Regions from separate parts of the Homo sapiens genome. Here region 2 is linked to region 1. Evidence: fine-mapped expression QTL. Tissue or cell type: sigmoid colon. Region 1 holds a variant in brackets; the other region holds the start of a gene. All regions are shown on one strand. Distances are between the middles of the regions.

Region 1 (8,109 bases):
CTAACTACTTACTTGATCCCTATTTTGTCAAACTCCGGATCTACCTACTTTAAGAAGTAGTTACAAAATGATTCTAACAAAATGTAAACAAATGTTATTCATGAAATTATCAATAATCTAGAATAGTCAAAAAATCTCCTTTTAGACTAATTTGTTCTATCACCTTGCTCGGCTGACTTAATTTTTCATAGTGTAATGGTTACTTTGAGGCTCAGCTCTGGAAATCTGTAGATGCACAACCTTGGACAGATCAAATTAACTTTCCTAAATCTCAGGCTTCCTCATTATGAAATGGGAATAAAAATACTATCTTACTTCAGAAACTTGATGTTCACCTTAGGACAAACTCGGACACAATTTCAGCAAACCCAGAAGGATGCATAGAAGGTTCTCTATGGAAGAGTGAATTCCATTCAAATGATCTTAACTGCCCAGAACTTACCTATCAGTCCTGGCCCTGGCTTCTTCATGATCTCCCCAGCCTGTGGAGGCTTTGTGATATTGAAGAAGATGTAGTCATCACTGGCGTCCACATCTGAAGCTCGCAGCATGGATCCCTGGATCAGGATGGTCTGCCCCTCCTCCAGTTCAATCACAACATTGGTTATGAGGAACGGGGGACTATCATCTTTGGGCAAGACGTTGATGGGGAATTTGTGACGGATGCTGTGATGGCCATCAAATATCCGGAAGACCACGAAGTCTTTGGTGGAGTCGCTGTCATCATGATGATAGCGAACAACTCCAGCCTGGAGGTCAGCCACGGTGAAGAGAAACCCTTTCCCCCCTGAGGGAGAGAGCAGAGATGGAGCAGATTGAGCAAGGGAGTGCAGAAGCAGCAGCTGTGGGGAAAGCATCAATACAGTAGAGGCTGCTAAGGAAAGTGTGCAGCCCGTATTTCCCTCACCTGGAAAAACTACAGATTGTTAGTGGGTTCTGGGAGAACATATCTAGTTTTGAATACTGGCTCCAACATTTATCAGTTGTGCAGATTTGAGCAAGGTATTTAATTTATGAAACTCATCTATAAAACATGGATAATACTACTGTGATGGTTTTAACTTTTTCCATCAACTTAACTGGGCTAAGGAATGCCCAGACAACTGGTAAAATATTATTGCTGGGTGGTTCTGTGAAGCAGTGTTTCTTGAAGTGATTAGCATTCGAATCAGCAGACTGAGAAAAGATCACATTCATCATTGTGGGCAGGCATCATCCAATCCATTGATAGACTGAATAGAACAAAAAGGAAGAGGAAAGGGGAATGCTCTGTCTCTTCTGGAGCTGAGACTTCCTTCCATCTTCTTCCCTCTGACACTGGAGCTCCTGGCTCTTGGGCCTTTGAACTCTGGAACATAAACCAGCCATCCTCTAACACCCTCATTTGTGCCTCCACCCTCCACCTTCCCTACCCCACTCACCCCTCTCCACTCCCCTTGCCCATCTTCTCAAGCCTTTGGCTTTGGACTGGGTTACACCATCAGCTTCCCTGGTTCTCGGGCCTTCAGACTAATACCCATGACTTCCTGGGCTTTCCTGGTTCTCCAACAGCCTAACAAGGAACCTCTCAGCCTCCGCAATTACATAAGCCAATTCCCAGAATAAATCACCTCATAGATAGATAGGTAGGTAGGTAGGTAGGTAGGTAGGCAGATAGATACATACATACATAGATAGACATTCTGTTGGTTTCATTTCTCTAGGGAACCCTTACTAATACAAATACTTACCTCATAATCCACAGCAAGAATGAGAGAACTTAAGCAACAGTAAGCCTACAATAAATGTTGGTTATTCTTCAGCTAATTGCTACCATCTTACATGGCAGCAGTTCTTAGAGGAGTGGTCTCAAACCAGCAGCCTCAGTACCATCTGGAAAGTTTTAGAAATGCAAATTCTCAAGCCTTACCCTGGACCTGCTGAATCAGAAATTCAGGGGTGGGTGGGAGGGAGGCAACAACCAGTGTTATCAAGCCTATTTGAAAATTACTGGCTCAAAGACCAAGAGCTAGAGCTCTAATATCTAACAGTCTGGGTTCAAATCCCAGTTCTGCCATTTTCTAGGTGTGCAACCTTAGATAAATCAGTTGTTCTAAGTCTCAGGTTACCCATTTGTAAAATGGGAATAATAATAGTATCTAATATCATAAAGTTGATATGAGATAACAAGTTAAAGTATACAGAATGCTTTCTACAGTGTCTGTCACAAAGTAAAGCTTAATAAATGATCACACTATTTTGTGTCTCCTCTGAACCCAGACCATCAATGCATTATGGTCTCCCACTCTCCATTTCATTGCTGTAGTATTAATAAACATTGCTTTGTTTTCTTCAGATACTTACAACTCTTCCTTTTTTTTTTTTTTTCTTTAGACGGAGTCTCCCTCTGTCGCCCAGGCTGGAGTGCAGTGGCGTGATCTCAGCTCACTGCAACCTCCACCTCCCGGGTTCAAACGATTCTCTTGCCTCAGCCTCCTGAGTAGCTGGGGCTACAGGCACGCACCACCATGCCGGGCTATTTTTATGTTTTTAGTAGAGATGGGGTTTCACCATGTCGGCCAGGCTGGTCTTGAACTCCTGACCTCAAGTGATCTGCCGGTCTCGGCCTCCCAAAGTGCTGGGATTACAGGTGTGAGCCACTGTGCCCGGCCAGAGACTTACAATTCTTAATGGCAGGTGCACCCCATTATTCTCTTCACACCACGTGGCTGTGTTAAAGACCTTAGAGGAATAAACGATTTAACACTGTCTTGACCAAGATCCACTTTATGCTTCTTCCTCACTACCAGAATCCTAGTTGTATTTGGCATAGCAATATGGTCATTTAAAAATACTCAGGCTTCCCGACTTGCTTGCACTGAGGAGTTGTATGTGACATAGTTTGATAAAGAAATCTAAGTGGAAATTGTTGTATTGTGCTCCTAGGAAAACTTGTTAGATACAGCAAACTTAGATCATGACTTCTTTCATTGTTCCTTCTGGGTCTTCAAGCCTCAAATACATGAAGAAAATAACTAATT[T/C]TCAAGCCACTACACTTGGATTTCTCTTACATACAAGCGAACACCCAACCTGACTGGTATACCCAGATTTAAACTGGCCTCCCACTGTCCTGAGATTAAGCAGGAGGATTTATCATACATTTATTATTTTGTTTTTGATTCCAGAATTCCCTGCTCACAAATGATGGTGAGAGTTATCTTTCTGCATTACAGTTAGGGAAACTAAGAAGATAATTGAATTAAATCCTCTGAGTTCATTATAAGGAATGACTTATTTTATCATAAAGTGTAAATATTACTTTTATTAGATTATTACCTTGTTAACTATCATCCCATAGAATTATAAATTTATTTCTTTTAAACCATGACAACTACTACTAATAACATAACATCATTATTACTAAAGTATTAATTAAGCATTAATTTTTCTTTTTCTTTTTTCTTTTTTTTGAGATGGAATCTTGCTTTGTCACCCAGGCTGGAGTGCAGTGGCGTGATCTTGGCTCACTGCAACCTCTGCCGCCCAGGTTCAAGCAATTCTCCTGTCTCAGCCTCCCAAGTAGTTGGGACTACAGGCGCCCGCCACCATGCCCGGCTAATTTTTGTATTTTCAGTAGAGACGGAGTTTTACCATATTGGTCAGGCTGGTCTTGAACTCCTGACCTCAGGTGATCCACCCACCTTGGCCTCCCAAAATGTTGGGATTACAGGCGTGAGCCACTGCGCTCGGCCTAATTTTTCAATATACTTCTTTGAAGCAGAGAAATAAAAAACATTCTGTCCTCCAACTGGGAAAAAAATAACTAGTTAAGGAGTATACTTACAAGAAGCCATGCATGGCATCCAGAAAGCAAAACTGAGGTTTAAACAATGAGCCACGTACAAGGTACCATTCATAAATGGTTAGACATTGATCTGAGCATTTGAACACAAAAGTCAATGATTTCAAGATCTCCAGATTTTCTGCATTTGACAATTTCATTGAGAAATTGGGCCCAAGAGATGCTACATATATCTGTTAAATATATCTACTTTTGAAGAAAATACTTTTGGATTCTTTGCTAGGTTACCAAGTTGGATCATTCACCTCTTAAAGTCAGCCATCCATGCTGCAGGCCACCAACGGTGACTAGCCGGACAGCACCAATGTCGTCATTGTCGACAACCTGAAACTGTTCCCAAGTGATGGCTCGAGACTGCCCCTCAAGGAGACTCAGACCTATGAAAGAAAGGAGAAAAGGGTGTTGGTATCATAGACTGGATAAAGAAAATGAGGCACATATACACCATGGAATACTATGCAGCCATAAAAAATAATGAGTTCATGCCCTTTGCAGGGACATGGATGAAACTGGAAACCATCATCCTCAGCAAACTAACACAGGAACAGAAAACCAAACACCACATGCTCTCACTCATAAGTGGGAGCTGAACAATGAGAACACATGGACACAGGGAGGGGAACATCACACACCAGAGCCTGTTCGGGGGTAGAGGGGAAAGGGGAGAAAGAGCATTAGGACAAATATCTAATGCATGAGGGGCTTAAAACCTAGATGACAGGTTGATAGATGCAGCAAACCACCATGGCACATGTATACCTATGTAACAAACCTACACGTTCAGCACATATACCCCAGAACTTAAATTTTTTAAAAAAAGATAAGAAAAGGGTATTGGCAAGTTCTATGACATGCCAACGTGCCTGCTTAAGAAAAGATGAGTGAATTTCCACTCATGAAACCATCTGAATATTGCATCTATAAAAGCTTTTCAAGAAACTGGAATGTAGCTTTTATTTTTAGTACTATTTTTATTTTTAGTACTATTAACTCCAATATTACAACAGATTACAGATAATCCTGAAAGGGAGCAGAGCAAGCTGGTCGAATTGCAAGGTAGCGTGCTGCTGGACTTATCTTATGCTTCTCTCACATCTGCCAGCTTCACCTGCCATCCCGGCCTCGACCAACTGACTGTTCTCTAGCTGCAGCCGCCCCATGAGGGTTCCCAGTCTCCAAAATTGTAAAGCCCTCCTGCCACCACTGCCTCATCTTCTGATGCAGCCGGCTACCTCCACTGCCCTCTAGTGGCGGCAGGACCAACCTTGTGGCTGATCAGGCCCTGCACCAGGGGACCCAGGAAGTGTGTGCAATGGCTGCTAAGAGGGGCCAGATAACACAATCTGGGCATGTGGGGAGTTAACAGCCAGTGAAGTAAACTTTAACCCATTAAACACAGGAGATGGGAAATAACTGACCATTAATAGATTGTTGACCTTTTCCCAACCCCACTTCCAACTCTTACCAGACACAGCAGTTGCATCTTCTCCCTGGAGACATCAACACTGCAGAGCAATCTGCTTTATCTTATTGTAAAGCTGTGACACCAGCTCAGCCATGCGTTTTTATTTGCTTCTCCCCTTACTCTTGCTTTTAGTATAGGGTTAGTACATCTGATCTGCCTCGGGGTCTGTTTTCTAGGGAAATTGGGCTAATACATATATAAAGGAGAGGGAGAGAGAAAAAGAAGGAAGGAAGGAAGGAAGGAAGGAAGGGAGGGAGGGAGGGAGGGAGGGAGGGAGGGTGGGAGGGAGAAGAAATGGACAGAAGTGCATAAGAAGAATCTCTGTGACTGGCAATAAGGGTTTGGAAGCCAGGAGTGCATAGGACAAGGCATCACGGAGCACAGCAGAGGAACAATCGAGAAGCCTAGAAATATATACAGCAAAATATTAACATTGGTTATATCTTCACGGCGAAATAATAATTTTAGATGCATTCTCCAAATTTCAACGATGGCACAGATCAAGTTCATAATAAGCAAACATTTATTTTAAAAGGGATTCTGATGTTCAAAGCAGCCAAAATGACATTGAGCAAACCTGGGTGTCACCGATCACACATACACGTACAGACTATTCCATCTCTACACTCAGGCAGGAGCCCATGCAACATGTGATTATTCCTAAACTTTAGGTTACTGATTCCATCTTTTCTCTCATTACCCCCTTGACAGAGGTACAGTAGGATGTATAGCCAGAATTATAAATCAAGGCTGCTCACCTGATGTTCTCTATCTCTGCTGAAACTCACACACATACAAACACATATCTATGTGTACACACACGAGGCAGCTCGTTTAAGCTGCCACCTGAGGATTTAAATCAGACACAGATATTTTTTCCTTAATACTATCTACCACCACTGCTTATAAGTATGTTTCAAATGGTATTGATGGGATCAGTGAGAAGGAAAAGATCTCCATTTACATTCCACATTTACATCTGATCAACATATACATATATATATCACATAAGTCCACTCAGAATTGAGAGGCATAGAAAGCCATATTTTAAAGCAGTTAAAGCTCTTATTTACATATTTTAGTTTCCATGCAGCCCAACATAAAAATAGACTATAGATTATAAAAGCTAAACCTTTCTCCAATCCCTTGGAACAATTTGAGTTGGAGATTTCAGTCCCACTACAGCTCAATATCACAAATAGTCAGTTTTTTGCTTCATTCAGTTGAAAAGTGTCCCTTTGTCTTATCTCCGGCAGAGGAAAGAACTTGGCCTCAGGACGCAGAAATCCTGGATTTAAATTTCTCACGCTGCCAGGAGGAATAAAAAAACAACAACAAAAGCTACTATGTGATGCCCTTAATCTGTCTGGGTTTCAGTTGCCACATGTATGACATAGGAATAAAACTACCTTTCTTTCCTGACCCATCTACTTTCTTGTATTCCCTTCAGGGCTATGTTGCTCTATGCCTTATATTGAGCTTTACCTGTATTCCAGGATACACGGGGGGCATTTGTATCTGCTGTTCTGATGGAGATGTGGACTGTCATAGGTGCACTCCTTTCAAAGAAGAAGTCGTATACCTCCAATTCTACCTGTAAACAAACAGAGGCAAAGGAGCCACACACTGAAGCGTTACAGGGTAAAGTAGCATTAATTCTGGGTTATACCCACACACAGTGGATTCAGTTTTCTGCGGGGATTCACATTTCTGCAGTTCCCACATCTCATTTAGACATCCTGATTTGACTTTTTCAGGTTCTAGATCTTGTTCCTTACTTTAACGGTATTTTTAAATTTTCTTCTACATAAAAGAATTTATTAATCTAAAATTGGTAATATGCTGGAGAAGTGTCTCTGCACTTGCTTAGGAGACCAACCCCTTCCCACATTCAGTCACTTAAATCTTTCTCAAAGGTGGAGGATCTAGAGAAGTGGTTTTCAACTAGGGGTGATGTTGTCCCACTACAGGACTTTTGGGAATGTCTGGAGGCATTTTTAATTTCAGAAGTCGGTGTGTGGGAAAATGCTATTGTCATCGAGTGGGTAGAGGCCAGGATACTAACATCCTACCGTACACAGGACAACCTCCCAAACAAAGAATTATCTGATACAAAATGGCAATTGTCGTACTGCTACTATCAAGAAACCCTGATCTAGAGACATGTATTTCACTAGACATATTTTTAAATATCTCAACTTTATTTGCTTTCATGAAATTCATAACTAATAAGTAAGTAGGGGCTGCGTGATAAGTTTTGATCTTTATTATGTGCTGTGTATGTATTGCACCAGATGTTGACAGAGAAGAATGAGGTATAACACAGAAATGCAAGGCATACTCCCTACTTTTGAAGAACATGTGGTCCATGGAAGAGGATAAGATAAATAATCAAACAGCACTATATCAGCAAACACTAAATAACAAAAGAAACTGATTCAAGGCTGCCAAAGCAACAGACTGAACAGGAAACTACATGGGCAGGAGGTGTCTTTTTTGGAGGGGTAATGCATTCGGTTGGGCCCTGGCCCAGGGCTTCCAGTCCACACAACCTGAAAACTGTGTGATCTCCACTGAAAAAATTGAGAGTTACTGTCTAACGAAAAAAATCACACATTCGCACAGGTTCTGCTTTAAGAGTACATTATACAATGCCAGAAACTACACACAGGAAGAGGCCAGAAAAGCAGTGCTCTAAGATTGGATGTGCAATGAGAAATTACTTCCTAACAGGGAAGGCATGGGGGGCCACAGACTATGATGAAAAGGGGGAAATAAAAGCAGAAGGCAAAGCATAGCGTTT
Region 2 (8,109 bases), 65 kb after region 1:
AAAATATTCTAACTTAGCAAGATCCCTGTCCTCCAGTCAATAGTTTTCCACTCAAACATATTATCTTCAGACAGCTAGAGGCTATGTTGTCAAAAAGCACATAAATCACACCTATAATTTCTTATCTTGATGGCCAAGTTTTAGAGCCCTTTGAAATGGTGCCCCAGTCACTGCAGTGAGAGAAGCTGCATTACAGACAAAATATAGTATAGACAGTATTTCATTAGGGAGTGGGTTTTGCTTTGTTTTTTGTTTCGCTCGGCCCCTCAAAGATGTCTGTTTAAGCCTCTCACCTGGTAGCACAAAAGCTGTTGAATCACTTGAATGAAAGGGTCAGGTTGCAAGCTGTGCATGTGTGGAAGCTGTCAAGCCCTGTTCAGACCACCCAGCTCTCCAAAGGAGTAGCGACATCAGATTCAGACAAGATAAGAGGCTGCCCTCCTATGTAACCTGGCGCAGGGAAACAGCCTTTCCAGGGAGTTACGGGATCCCATTGTAAGGAATGGCTACATGCCCTGAAAAGATTACACTTGTCTAACTCAATATTCCTGTGGTCATGGTGCTTTGTGAGAGAAAAAAATACATCTGAAAATTTTTGAAGAAAAGCAATTAGCGAAATCTTTAGGCCTATTCTCAGAGTAAATGCTGAAAAGCTCTCATAGCCCATATCTGTGTTTAGAAGACTGAGTCATATCCATCAATGTCAGAATATCAGAGCTAGGAAGATACCAAAACTCATTTAATTCAACTTATTTTACTGATGAGGAAGTGAAGCTTTGAGGGGTTAGATGGCTCTTCCAAGGCTGGTTAGCAACAACTAAGATTTGAAACACCATGAGGACAAGGACCCTGCCTGTGCATGCCATCCCCAGTGGGCATTCTGAAATCCTTAAAAACTATCACAGAGCCTGGCATGTAGCAGGTGCACCTAAATGTTTGGAATGAGGAAAGAAAAGAAAGCAAGGGGCTCTGATGGCCATGTCCAGTTTTCTTTTTAATATAAATATTAAACGCCAGAAAATGCAAGGATGGGGATGGAAGCTGAGCTCTGACTTTCACATATTGTGAAATGAGAATTTTAACACCATGGAAGAATCATTTTCTGTTTCTTCTCATCCCTGTGGGATGGTCCAATCCAAAAATCATTTTCTAGGAATGAGGCTCCTGAACCATTCCATGAAATCAAGCTCAGTTTACCCAAACTCAGCCTCGCCCAACCCCTACAGCCCAGCAGCCCCAGGAGGCTGGGAAAGAATTAAGAACAGTCCTGGGTTTAAAGTTTCCAAAACAAACATTGCTTAGCCATGCGGGGGCAGATCAGGCCATATAGCCCAACATGTGAAAGCAGGGAACATGGTAGTCAGGTCCCTTTGCCCAACTCCTTTTTTCCCTCGTGGGAATGAAAAGGCAGAGATGAAAAGGGAAGCAAGAAAAAAAAAAGATGAGGTTGGTGGAAAACTGATTAAAAAGCCCTGGTTTGCCAGCCAAGCATGCAAAACCATGTTGCACATTAAGTTATGCTCAACAACAGCTCAAACTCAGGTTTCTTATTTAGATATAAGGTTTAATATTAACCAAGTACATGACAAGAATTTCATGTCAAGGACAATGTAGAGCAATGTTTACCCAAGTGTGACCCACCTGCTTCAGAATCACCTGGGAAGATTCCTGGCACCACTCCAGGTCTAAAATCCTTTGGGCCTGGGAACTGAGAACCTGCCTTTCACCAAGCAAATGGGGGTTCTTACACACAGTCAGTTTTGAGAATGCCTGATGGAGAGAAACAGCAAAGTTTCCTAGAGCTGCACTGAAGGCACCTTTATCAAATGTAAGCAGGGGGCTGAGGCACAGCTCTTCAAGCTTTACCTAGAGTCAGGAACAGCGGGTGTCAGTTTTCCAGAGCAGAAACCTGAAGAGCATTCGAATCACTAGCTCTGTTCTGTGAAGCAGCACCACAGAGGTTAATCTCTCCAGTAAGATTCCCAGGCTATAAACACCAATTGGCTCCCAGAAATGCTCTTTTTAAGCTTTGTAATGCACACCAAGCAACAAGACTGGGTGCAATAGTTTAAAAAAAAATCAGAAACTAAAATTAAATACCTTAAAAACAATAAACAATTTCCATAAGCCAAAAATTGTTTCCTGGATTTCAAAATAAAATGAAAAGAAACTCTTTACAACAGCACCAAAGTCTCTGGACCAAATCTCAGTACTGAGCAGAGAGAGCCTAAAAATCAGTCCAAAAACTTCAGAACAAGGCCATTTCTTTGCCTCCCCAGCACTATCTCTCTTCCCCACAATGAAACAGAAATCATGTTTTTGAAAATATGTCTCCAAATATAACTAAACTTAAGCAAAGGTATCCAGACATTATCTCATCCAAATTTCTCTATGTTTGTACCATGAGGATATTATCTGTTCTGTTCATTTTTGTGTCTTTTCCCTTTGCCATTTCATTTAGCTGAGAAGAAACATTCTAATTTCAGAGGAAACAATTACACAGTTAAAAAATGGTTATTTCATTGGCAAGTGCCAGCACGGATGGACTGAGAAGAGTTAGAAATTTGTGTCACGTAATAAAAAGAATCTCAGTTTTGGCATTTGGTTTGTTAACACTGCAAGTTGCCATCTTCTGAGTTAACAGGAGAGTTAAACTTTTGCAAGCCTACTCTTGCAGATGCTTTGCATTGTTACTTGGCATTAATGATATCACACAAACAATCTCTGGGGCATTCTGCTAACAGAACATTCACAGTCACAATGAAAAGAAACACATAAAACAGATACTTACAGGTAGTGGTTTTCCTTTCCAAGACAAAAAGTTAGAAACCCTTGGAACTGGCGGGCAGGATAAGAGTCACTGACACAGCAATCTGGTTTAAAGGGCTTTGAGAGGAAGGGGGAGGAAAAAGAACCCCGGGAAGGAAGAGAGCTGAAATTCCAGTCTTTCAGGTCAGCTGTGTTTGAGATTTCTTTTTACTAAAAATCCATTAACCCACCTCACAGAAAATACAGAATTGAAGTTCACATACACACTCCACTTTCTTTGCTGGTCTTCTCCAAGGCAGCTGCTGCAGCTTTGCAAACTTCCTGAGCGCCAAGCCTCAGGACTCCCTGTGAGAAGGGCATGATAAAGATGCCTTCTACTGTTTACACAGAGCCCGACCTCCCTGGCGGACAGCCACCGCTAGCCCCGTGCCTTCTGCTGGTTGGGTCCGCAGGGACAAAACTGAGCTTTTGTTAATGAGGTCGGTTGCCTCTTCCCAGTCTCTTCCCAGCTTCCTTTCTCACTACTAGTTTTGTACTAACTGCTCCGCCACTCGCCGAGCCAGAGCAGCCTCTCCCGCCTGCAGCACACAGGCACACACACACTCAGACACAGGCACACACACATTCACAAATGGGCACACAGTCACATACAGACACACCCACTCACAGAGGTACACACACAGGCACACATACAAACACGATAGACACACAATCACCACACACAGACACATACACAGGCAAATGCCTTCACATGCATGCACACATAGTGACCCACCCCACACATGTGCATGCATTCTCACGCATGCTCCACACACACACGGGGGCACACACATACGCACAGGCCGCACATGCCCACACCCACACATGTACATACTCACACAGACTCTTCCAACACACTTTTTTTCTGCCCTTCTTTTCTTCCAACACATTCCCATCTTCAAAGGTTTTTATTTAAATTTAGATGAGAAGCCCAGCATTCAGAAGGGACAGGGCCCGTTTTAACTTTTGTCATGGCATTTAAGGGAAAAGATAGGATGGAACTAGATCCTAAGGTGCTGTTTTTAAGTACCACCTTAGTTCTTCCATTTGTAAGGCTTTTTGTGTGTCTGGCTCTTTTCGAAAACCCATAAAAATCCCATTAATCTGATCCATTTGCATATAGTGCGTGATCCCAATAATGCAGATATATCACTGGCCAAGAACTGTCCTCTCAACAGAGATTCACATAGTTAACTTGTCAGTATTCAGTGGTCTGTGAAAGTCTTAATCCTTAACAACTGTTTAATAAAATGCTTTCCTGTATTTTATTCCCACCAGGAAAAAAAAAGATAATGGCCTACCATCTGGCCTTCTAAATTAACCATAAAGAGAGAATTTGAAGTATTAACTCACTTTGGGGGAACTGTTTATATTAAGACATGTCTGGCTATCCTAAACCTTTGCCAAAAATATAGAACACTGTGAATCCAATTCAACCTAGATGTGGTTTCCCGTAACAAGGTCACAACACCATATGCCTTTCTTTGGAAGCCATAAGGAAAAGAGAGAGGAAAATGAAAAAGGAGAAGAAAATTACATGAGGAAGGAAGAAAGAAAAGAGAAAAATGTAAAGAAGAAAAGAATGCATAAGAAGGGAGAAAAAAATTATGTATTTTAAAAACATGCTTTGTGGTTACTTTAGCAATGAATGGTGCATATACACTTACTCAAAGTCATCGGAGATTTCAAATCTTCAAGAATTTCTTGATTCATTTTATTTGCTCTGAGAATAAGTAGGTGAAAGTTAAGAATCACTAAGCTCTTTATAAGTGAACAGATATTATTTACTAAACACAGTTATTATTAAATAAATATAGTGACAATGTGTGAGTCATATATTAATCCTGAAAAGGCAAGAAATAAAGCCTTAATAATGACAGTTAAGAAACACAGCATAATAGACAATTTTATTCCCCAACTGATTTTCAAAATTGCCCAGGTTGTGAATATCTTACCTGCAAAGAAATGAAGATGGTTTTAGAAGCTGTTAGTTGAGACTCGGATTCCATTTGACAAAGGAATTGTATACTATGTACAAACGGTTGCATCAACATGCTTATTCTAACATCTAAATAAGGTTTATAGATTAGTCTAGAAACTAATAAGGTTTATAGATTAGTTTATAGATAGATTATAAAGTTTATAGATAGATTAAGAGCTAAATAAGGTTTACAGATTAGTCTAGAAACAGAGATAAATGTCTTTATATCACTTCTATGGGAAAAATAACTTAAGCATGCTAAGCAAAAAATAACAAACTTAGATTGTAAAGTATTTCAAAAAGTCCGCAGGAGATATAATCTTTCCAAAGTTAATTATATACATGAAGCTTGGCCTAACTGTGCTGAACATATTCTGAAATAGGCAGTTAAGAGTTAGATCAGTCAAAATGTCCTGAAATCTGAAGTACCTGTTTATACAAATGTCATTCCTTCTATCTGCCACAAATGAATAAGGGCCTGGAAATAATACAATTATCAACTTCAATCAATAAAATACTGTTTGAACAGATTGAAATGCCAAGCTAGGGAATTTAAAAAGAACTAGTCAAAGAAACAACAAAGAATTCTTCCCCTAAAAGCATGTGCTGCTGAACTTAGTGCTGGCACAAAATTCATTTTTAAAGAAATCATTTTACTTCTAGCCCTAGTTGGAGTGATAATGAAAAATATCAAATGTGTGTTGGAGATTGGCATATCATTTTGGATTGTAAATATGAATGATTTTTGTTGAATTGCTGTAGAATGTAGCATTCTCTGAAAGGCATAGCCAATGCCTTCACCAACAATTCATATAAAAAATTAGGAATGTGCCTATTAAATTTTGACGATGGCAGCAGACAGAAGTGTTATCTATTGCAACGTAAAGATAGTTTTCCACTGAGTCTCTAACACTAGATGGCCATGGGAAGCAATACTATGGCAAGAGAAGAGGATGAGTCCAGGAATAGAAAGGTTATACATACCACAATTGAAATAATAAACATGAAAACAAATAAATAAAGAAAAGCAATACAAACACCTCTGTGTACCAGAAAAGAGCAATAACACAGCCGATGAGAGGGTTTATAGGAAGAGCCTTGCTGACCTCAGACTTGGGAGCTGACAACGTGATTAGGGGTTATCAGGAAATAAAACCACCCCTGAGCAGGGCACAAGAGCAGCGTGCTCTGCTTGCCATGAGAGCGCTACCGGCCAATTTGACTGTCAACATGAATGCAAAATCCTAAATAACTAATTTACAAATCAAATTCAGCTCTGCTTTTTAAAAGACAACATGACCAATAGCGATGAATTTTTCTTTCAGGATTGCAAGGATGTTTCAAAATCAGAACATCTAGCAGTTTAATATATTAAAGAAGGAAAAAAGGCATGACTATCTTAATAAGTGCAGAAAAAAGACATTCAGTAAAATTTAATACTCATTCATTAAAAAACCAAAAACTGAAAACTATTAGCCAACTAGGTCTGGAAGGGAAGTTCCTAAATCCAATTAAAGACATCTTACTCCAATCTCCACAATTCAACATTGGATAGGAGATCCTAACCAACACAGTAAGTCAAGATAAAAAAATGAGGCATAAAAATTTAAAAGGAAAAATAAACCTTTCATTATTTGCAAAAGATAAGAGTCTCTGTACAAATATGCAAAAGAATTTACTGTTTGAACTATTCAAAGAGTTCAGCAAGTTTGTTGGACATAAGGTCAACATACAAAAATAGATGGCGTTCATATATACAAGTAACAACTAATTACTGAAAATACTTTTTAAAAGACAGCTTTTATAATAGCAGCAAAACTTTAATGAGCCTGGTAATTCATCTAAATTAATTAAATTTGGGTAAAATTTCATGAAGAAAATAAAAAATTAATAAAGGGCATAAAAAATCTAGATAAATGGGAAGATAATATCAAACTGGTTGAGAAGACTTAATAATGTAAAAATGTCAATTCTCCCAAAATTAAAATTTCAATGCAGTGTCAATTGGAATGCCAACAAGGCATTTTATATAAATATGTGTACACATATACACATTATGTACATATATGTTATATATGTATATTATATATACTATGAAATATATAAATTATATGTATTTATATATTTGTATATATTTTGTGTGTGTGTGTGTATGTGTGTGTGTGTATATATATATATATATATATATATATATATATATATAAAATGACAAGCTGATACTAAAATTTATCTAAAAGAATAAAAACCAGGAATGGCCAAGACAAATTGAAGAAGATACATTTAATGATTAATTTCCCTGCTAAATATTGATATTTTATATTATAAAGTTTTAACAATTAAGAAATTGTGGAATTTTCACAGTGATAGAAGGCAAAGAAAGAGTCTAGAAAAGCTTGGAAGCAGGTCACTCACATATAGCAACCTGGTGTATGACCAAGGTCAGAATAGAAGTCAGTGAAGAAATAATAGACAATCAATAATACGTTGACAGGACAATAGGTTATCCATATGGAAAACATAGCATCAGAACTCTACTTCATATCATATATCAAAAAACATTAGATCTTTACCTCATACTATACACCAAAACAAATTGCAGTTGATTTGAGTATCTTAATTTGATAACAAAGCCTTTAACTTTTGGAACCAAAAAAATCAAGGAATATCTTCTTAATATCAAGGGAAAATTTCTTAAGTGTGATACAATAAGTAAAGGCTATAAAAGAAAAACTTGATATATTTTATATAATAATTAAAATTTCCCATGGAGCAAAAACTTAAAAGTTTTTTTTTAAAAAAAAAAACAGAAATTGGGAGAAGGTACTGAAAATGAAAATAAATTACAAAATCTTTATGCTCAAAATTTAAAGAAGCTTCTGAAGCCTATACAAATCATTAAGAAAAAAATCTTAATATTCTCCTTTTATTAAAGGAGAAGACACACAAATGGCTAATAAATACATGAAAGCATCCAATTACACAAACAATCAGGCCAGTACAAATGGAGACTAAAAATGAGACTCTCTCAGATAAATAAAACGTTTAAAATCTTACAATAAATTAAATCTGGTAAATTAAATAAATTAAATCTGGTAAAAGATAAGCGGGGGGAAAACTCTTAGTTGCTACTGGAAGTTTTAAATAGACACAAACACTTAGAAAGTAGTCTGACCATTTCTAGTAAAAGTAAATATTCCAAAAACCTTAAATTAGGCATTTTAACTTCTAGAGTTACACTTAGATTCTCATATGTGTACAAAAAGTCTTATACCTGACATTCTTTGCCATTGTAATTGAAAAATATTGAAACAACCATCATC

What was found. PIP is the estimated chance that this variant, and not a neighbour inherited with it, causes the effect.
Region 2: FREM1 starts here. The variant in region 1 is fine-mapped to the expression of FREM1 in sigmoid colon (GTEx, PIP above 0.99).

Annotation. Positions count from the first base shown.
Region 1 is chr9:14,841,874-14,849,982 of GRCh38, forward strand. FREM1 (FRAS1 related extracellular matrix 1) reads right to left here. Exons shown (of 37, transcript NM_001379081.2): 7 at 6,792-6,900; 8 at 4,087-4,218; 9 at 443-787. Among named protein-coding and RNA genes, the nearest start is that of FREM1, 64 kb to the right of the region's middle. The variant T/C (reference allele first, on the strand shown) is at 3,021.
Region 2 is chr9:14,907,123-14,915,231 of GRCh38, forward strand. It overlaps FREM1 (FRAS1 related extracellular matrix 1), which reads right to left and starts at 3,306. Exons shown (of 37, transcript NM_001379081.2): 1 at 2,792-3,306. RefSeq lists enhancers at 80-620, 1,570-2,071.